Linked DNA regions of Homo sapiens. The protein of the gene in region 1 interacts with the protein of each later gene in a pairwise test. Each region holds a gene or a part of one and is shown on either strand. Other genes may lie near its edges.

Region 1 (3,811 bases):
CCGTGCCCCAGTACTGGCCTTCCAGGTAGAGTGGTTTTAGATCAGAGTTTTGTAACCCACGTCTTGGTCAGTTATCACCCTCCCTATAGTAACTAAAATAGTACGTTCTGCTTTGAAGGTGTCCCTACACCACACCGAAGATACTCACCTTGTGGAGATTGGAAGGATGCCAGCTCTTTAAATGAGACATCGTTTTTGCTTAACGTAACTTAAAAATGAAAAACAGAGCTTTTGATATTAATTGAAATAGTGAGAAAATAAATGTATTTAGGTTATTTTTTTGTGGAGCATGAATGGAAGTTAAGACAGACCTAATGACCTGATTTACAGAAATTGAGTCAGTACAAATCTTAACCCAAATATCAGCCTGTGTTCCCGTGCTGGTTTTGATTTTGCCATTATGTTATATTGTGTGTCCTGCTGCAGGAGACCAGTACTTCTTTTGCCTCAACCCCTACTTGTAGTTTCGAATTACCAAATGTTTAAATGCTGTGTTGTTGTTATTAGAATTTATCTAATTTTCTTGTATCAGAGATTCAGAAGGCTCCTTTAGTTTAAGCTTTTCAAAAAAAATTTTTTATTTGACAGACGTGCTCTGTCCCACAGGCTGGAGTGCAGTGATGTGATCTCAGCTCACTGCAACCTCCACCTCCCAGTCTCAAGCAATCCTCCCACCTCAGCCTCCTGAGTAGCTGGAGACTACAGGTGTGCCACCATGCCCTACTAATTTTTTTTTTTTTTTTTTTTTGAGACAGAGTCTAACTTTGTCACCAGGCTGGAGTGCAGTGATGCAGTCTCAGGTCATTGCAATCTCTGCCTCCTGGGTTCAAGCAATTCTTGTGCCTCAGCCTCCTGACATAGCTGGGATTACAGGAGTATGCCACCACACCTGCTAACTTTTGTAACTTTAGTGGAGACAGGGTTTCACCTTGTTGGCCAGGCTGCTCTCAAACTCCTGGCCTCAAGCAATCTGCCCGCCTCAGCCTCTCAAAGTGCTAGGATTACAGGTGTGAGCCACTGCTACTGGCCCCTGCTAATTTTTTATTCTTTGTAGAGACAGAGTCTCACTATTTTGCCCAGAATGATCTAGAACTCCTGAGCTCAAGCAATCCTCCCACCTCGGCCTCCCAAAGTGCTGGGATTATGGGCGTAAGCCACCATGCCCAGCCCAGATTTCTAATAGAGGTAGATTTTATCATGCATCTCTAAGTTACCTGAAAGTCCTGCTATAATTGTTCTAGGCATTTTCAAACTTTTGAGAAGCCTAGAAGTATACAAACTAAGATGTTAAGACACGTTGTATGGCCTGGCATGGTGGCTCACGCCTGTAATCCCAGCACTTTGGGAGGTCGAGGCGGGCAGATCACTTGAGCTCAGGAAATCGAAACCACCCTGGCCAACATGGTGAAACCCCGTCTCTACTAAAAATACAAAAATTAGCCAGGCGTGGTGGCAGACGCCTGTAATCCCAGCTACTTGGGAGACTGAGGCAGGAGAATCACTTGAAGCTGGGAGGTGGAGGTTTGCAGTGAGCTGAGATCGCACCGCTGCACTCCAGCCTAGACAACAGAGTGAGACTCCATCTCAAAAAAAAAAACGCATTGTAATAACTATTCCATTTCTTAAATTGGAAGGCTGTATGTTTTAGAATAAACTTCCAAGTAATATCTTTCTTTTTCTTTACTGTGGCTTTTGTAGGCTTTTCTTTTTTAATTAGACAATTTGTTCCTCACAGATAGGGTTGATGAAGAACGCTTGGTAGGTAAGCACCTGTGTGTGAGCCGAGTCATTCATAAAGAACTGTTCACAGATAGGTTGATGAAGAATGCTTGGTAGGTAAGCGCCTGTGTGTGAGCCGAGTCATTCATAAAGAGCTGTTCACAGATAGGGTTGATGAAGAATGCTTGGTAGGTAAGCACCTGTGTGTGAGCCGAGTCATTCATAAAGAGCTGTTCACAGATAGGGTTGATGAAGAATGCTTGGTAGGTAAGCGCCTGTATGTGAGCCAAGTCATTCATAAAGAGCTGTTCACAGATAGGGATGATGAAGAATGCTTGGTAGGTAAGCGCCTGTGTGTGAGCCGAGTCATTCATAAAGAGCTGTCCTTGTGTTGGTCTCATGGGCATCGTGTTTCCTCCGCAGAGCCAGCCCCAGTGCCTGCTGAGCCGTTTGACAACACTACCTACAAGAACCTGCAGCATCATGACTACAGCACGTACACCTTCTTAGACCTCAACCTCGAACTCTCAAAATTCAGGATGCCTCAGCCCTCCTCAGGCCGGGAGTCACCTCGACACTGAGGGCCCTCGGTGTGAAGATGAACCTTCCACCGTCTTCACTGCATCCTGGAGTGCAAAAATAAAATCCACTCAAGAGTCACAAGGCCCGCTGTGCATAATCGGTTTCACTTTTACCTTTTTTTTTTTTTTTTTTTTTTTGAGACAGGGTCTCACTCTGTCACCCAGGCTGGAGTGCAGTGGCACATTCTCGGCTCACTGCAACTTCCGCCTCCTGGGTTCAAGTGATTCTCCCACCTCAGCCTCCCAAGTAGGTGGGATTACAGGTACTCACCACCAGGTCCAGCTAACTTTTGTATTTTTAGTAGAGACAGGGTTTCACCATGTTGGCCAGGCTGGTCTCGAACTCCTGACCTCAGATGGTCTGCCCACCTCCGCCTCCCAAAGTGCTGGGATTACAGGCGTGAGCCACTGCGCCCGGCCACTTTCACACTTTTTACAGTGAGTGGTGAATTAGCAACAGTAACACTGATTATCCAACATATATTTTGGAATATCTACTATGTGCAAGGAATTTTTCTTAAACTCTAAGGTTATGAATCACTGGGCAAATCCATATAATTAGAGAATTTTAAGTGCTTTAGAGCGGTGTGATTCTACTGTGCTCAGCCTAGTCAATTTCGCATTAAACTGATTATCAGCTGAGTATCAATAATGTAATAGTGACTTCTTTTATTTTTTTTGAGATGGAGTCTCTGTTTCCCAGGCTGGAGTCCAGCGGCACAATCTAAACTCACTGCAACCTCCGCCTCCTGGGTTCAAGTGATTCTCCTGCCTTACTTAGCCTCTTGAGTAGCTGGTACTACAGGCTCACGCCACCATGCCTGGCTAATTTTTTTTGTATTTTTAGTAGAGATGGGGTTTCACCATCTTGGCCAGGCTGGTCTTAAACTCCTGACCTCATGATCTACCTGCCTCAGCCTCCCAAAATGCTGGCATTATAGGCGTGAGCCACTGCACCCAGCCAGTAATAGTGACTTCTAATCCTACAGCCCTGGTTTTTGATCATTAGAAACAGGAGTTTTGGCCAGGTGCAGTGGATAATTCCTGTAATCCCAGCGCTTTGGGAGGGCGAGGCGGGTGGAGCACCTGAGGTCAGGAGTTGAGACCGGCCTGGCCAACATAGTGAAACCCCATCTCTACTAAAAATACAAAAATCAGCCAGGCATGCTAGTGGGTACCTGTAATCCCAGCTACTCAGGAAGCTGAGGCAGGAGAATCATTTGAACCTGGGAGGCGGAGGTTGCAGTGAGCAAGATCGTGCCATTGTACTCCAGCCTGGGCAACAGGAGTGAAACTCAATCAAAAAAAAGGAACAGGAATGTTACTAATTTTAACTACTGCATTGCAAACAAATTGTATTGCAGTATTTTACCATCAGAAAAGGAAGGGAATTGTTTTGTTTGCCTCTGTTAGATATTTTATATAAACTTGAGGACATTTTCATTGGTGAGATTCGGAAGAGGTGAAGTTTCTTGCAGTACAGGGACGAAGTAGGAAGAGGTGAAGTTTCG
Region 2 (3,811 bases), on another chromosome or scaffold:
GGTGAGCCGGGCTGAGGCTTGGCTGCTGCGTGTGGTCGAGGAGGGAGGAAGCCAGCCCAGCTCCCAGCCCTCCCCCAGCCGCCTCCACTAGTCGCAAATAGAACATTCCAGAATGCAAGAGCAGGGAGGGCCCTGGAGAGGGATTCAACCAGCCCACTCCTTCTCAGAGAAGAGATATGAAGCTGTCACTCCCCAGCTTGAAACCCTTTGATGGGGTGTGTGTGAAAAACACGGCGGCTCATGATCTGATCTCTGTGGTCTCCTTGCCACTCCCCACCTCCTGCCACCCCATCCACTTACCCACCCCCTGCACACACAGTCTCCTGCCTCCGTGACCCCTATGCAGGACTCTTCCCTCTGCTGCACTGACTGCCCTCTCCACCTTCCTCCGTCTGGCTTGGCAAACTTCTAATTAGCCTTCAAGCTTCAGTCAAGCGTCTGCTCCCCTCTAAAACCTCCCAGGAACAGCAGACACCTGCACTTGACAAATTTTTGGCTTCCTACTATGTGCAGGACACCCAATCTTCTCACTATGTTGCCCAGGCTGGACTTGAACTCCTGGCCTCAAGTGATCCTCCTGCTTCAGCCTCCCAAAGTGCTAGGATTGCAGGTGTGAGCCACTTCACCTGGCCAGGACACTGAACTGTGCTCAACAATTACACGTACTTTTTACATGAAATCTTTCCATACTGTCTCTCTGACTGGATTCTGAGGTTCTCAAAAGAGTGAACTGTGCCTTTATCTTTACATCCTGGCACCAAGTAAGGTGCCTGGCACCCATGAGTGCTCTCTATCTCTCCCACTCTCGCTGATAAAGGAGCCCAAACTGGGCCACTGACTTGCTTTCCAGGCTGGAGTGCAGTGGTGCAATCACAGCTCACTGCAAGCTCGAACTCCTGGGCTCAAGCAATCCACACCCGGCTAATTCTTTAAATTTTTTGCAGAGGCTGGGGTCTCACTATGTTGCTCAGGCTAGTCTTGAACTCTTGGGGTCAAGAGATCCCATCTCGGCCTCCCAACGTGGTAGGATTACAGGCTTGAGCCACCAAGCAGGCCTTGCTTCTTTAATACAAACCCCAAAGACTCCCAAGGTCCTCACTGCCCTGAGGTTAAAACTGCCCTGACTGTAAGGATAAAGACAGACAGAGGCCGGGCGTGGTGGCTCATGCCTGTAATCCCAGGACCTTGGGAGGCCGAGGTGGGCGGATCACCTGAGGTCAGGAGTTTGAGACCAGCCTGGCCAACATGGTGAAACCCCACTTCATTAAAAATACAAAAATTAGCCGGGCATGGTGGCGCATACCTGTGGTCCCAGCTACTCAAGAGGCTGAGGCAGGAGAATCATTTTAACCCAGAAGGCAGAGGTTGTAGTGAGCAGAGATCGCGCCCCTGCACTCCAGCCTGGGTGACAGAGAAGACGCCATCTCAAAAAAAAAAAAAAAAAAAAAGGCAGAGCAGCTGCTTGCCCTGGCTGAGCCTCAGAAGGATGCGGCCTTGGAGCACTTGCCAGCAGGCCCGGGGATGGTGGGTACTCCTGGTCCTGCCTCACATTGCCTGGTCCTGGCTGTCCTCAGTAACAAGTGACTCCCTGGCTCGAATGAACAAGTGCTTCCCTCTGGGCCTCAGGCTCCTCTTCTGTAGGCTGAGGGTGTTGGATCAGATCACCAATTTTCAAACACTTTTGGACTGCAGCAACTCTCTTTTTATCCCCAAAAGAAATTATACGTGGAAGGGTCACAGGCAAATAAAATTGAGGCTACTCTGACTGGAGGTCAGGTGTGGGGCCCACCAAGCCTCAACCTCTGGTCCCCCCAACCCCATGGCAGCATTCTAAGGGGTTCACTGACATGTCTCCCTGGAGGGAGCACCCAGTTTGAAAACCGACGAGCTGGGTGCTTCCTCGAACCCTTTGTGATCAGAACACTCATTTTGTGCACTCCCTGCCACCTTCCCTTTGGCCCCAGGGCCTGAATCGGAGAGACCTGTGGTGGTAGACCCCTGTGAAAGGAACTGTCCCAGAGTGGGAGCAAACCCAGACCTCATTCTCCCAGGCTCATTAGTACAACACTCTTGCAGAAGGCCCTGTCCCCAGAGCCCTTGATCTTCCCTGAGCCCAATCCCCAAAGTAGCAGTCTCTTCAGAGCCAGCCTGGTGACGTCAGGACATGTCAACCCTAGAGGAGGGACTGGCAGCCACGAGGGTGGGGGTGACCTCAGACAGCCAGGACAGGAGCAGGAAGGGCTGGGAGGGAGGAGAGGCCCGGCGGGTCCAGCCGGGAGCCCGCGCCCATACCTGGCATGCTGGAAGTACTCCTTGTGATGGTTGCGGTAGAAGACGGAGAAGCGGAGCATGCGGCCTGCGATCTGCTCAGCTTTCTCCTGAAGCTGAGCCAGGTGCTCCTTGGCATAATCTGCAAGATCCCAGATGCGGTAGGTGAGCCGAGGGCCAGCTGAGGAGCACAAACACCTCCTGTCCCCACCCCACCCCACACTGTGTGTGCCGGCCAACCTCTGTCCGCCAGAGCAGCAGGGGAGACTAGACAGTCGCAGAACCTTAAACTCAGATGGGAACAGGCCAGCTGGCCTCTGCTGGAAACACAGAGCGCTGCATACTGTCTGTCGTCATCACCTCTGCAACCACATTGCCAGAGGCTCCGGGCTCTCCGGGTCAGAAAAAGGCAGAGGGCTGCCCAGTTATCCTGCCAGGGTCCTCAGGGGCTGTGATCCCAGGCCATCCTCATGTGAAAAGAGGACCCCTGGGAAAAAGGAAGACTTGAGACGGGAGGGCTTGAGGTCCTTTTGGGAAAGTCTCTCAAATACAGTAGATAGGAGGCTGCCCACACCACCCCCATGGAAGCCAGCTGTAATTACAGGTGACGGCTCGTGAGGGTCTAGGGAGAACTGAGCCCAGGCAATGTTTAGGCAGTCCTGGGTCTGGAGCAATGGCTCTCAGCTTGAGCATCTCAGGAGAAACAGGGAAGGCTGGAAACAGGATAGCAACATTGAACCCTGGGGCCCCAGCAAGGCTGCTGCTGGCACATACAGCTCCTTGGTACAAATTAGAAGATGCCCTTCCCTCTTTGTGGCTGCATCCCTGGCCAGGGTGCTTGGTTTGGAGAGAGGAGTGTGGACTGGATTGCAGCCAGATCTCCAATTTGAATTAAATGCCCACTGCACATGGAGGTCTCAGGGGTAAACCAAGAAGCTTTCCCCACCAGGAGCAAGAGGCCTCCAGAGAGTGGGGTTCTGCAGCAGAGCTAAGAAAAAACACCACTCAACCAGCAGCAGTGGTTCACGCCTGTGATCCCAGCACTTTGGGATCACTTGAGCCCAGGAGTTTGAGACTAGCCTGACCAACATGGAAAAACTCCATCTCTACAAAAAAATATCAAAAATTAGCCAGGAATGGTGGCATGTGCCTGTAGTTCCAGCTACTCAGGAGGCCAGGAAGCTGAGGAGGGAGGATGGCTTGGGCTCGTGGGGAGGAGGTTGCTGAGGCTGCAGTGAGCCATGATCATGCCACTGCATTCCAACCTGGGCAACAGAGCAAGACCCTGTCTCAAAAAATAAAAATGAAAAAGGCCAGGGATGGTGGCTTATGCCTGTAATCGCAGCACTTTGGGAGGCCAAGGCAGGCAGATCACCTGAGGTCAGGAGTTCAAGATCAGCCTGGCCAACATGGTGAAACCCCATCTCTACTAAAAATACAAAAAAAAAAAAAAAATAGCCAGGCATGGTGGTGGGCGTCTGTAATCCCAGCTACTCAGGAGGCTGAGGCAGGAGAATCGCTTGAACCCGGGAGGCGGAGATTG

What was found.
Region 2: the proteins of NDUFV3 (region 1) and PHYHIP interact in a two-hybrid assay, tested with the Homo sapiens proteins (one large-scale study listed by BioGRID and IntAct).

What each region holds. Positions count from the first base shown.
Region 1 is NC_000021.9:42,906,722-42,910,532, forward strand, and holds part of NDUFV3 (NADH dehydrogenase [ubiquinone] flavoprotein 3, mitochondrial isoform a precursor), read left to right. Parts: intron 1-118; coding exon of another isoform or gene 119-181; intron 182-2,142; coding exon 2,143-2,300; 3' UTR 2,301-3,811. UniProt on the Homo sapiens protein: Accessory subunit of the mitochondrial membrane respiratory chain NADH dehydrogenase (Complex I), that is believed not to be involved in catalysis. Complex I functions in the transfer of electrons from NADH to the respiratory chain.
Region 2 is NC_000008.11:22,221,934-22,225,744, forward strand, and holds part of PHYHIP (phytanoyl-CoA hydroxylase-interacting protein), read right to left. Parts: intron 3,284-3,811; exon of another isoform or gene 2,509-3,283; intron 2,411-2,508; coding exon 2,293-2,410; intron 1-2,292. UniProt on the Homo sapiens protein: Its interaction with PHYH suggests a role in the development of the central system.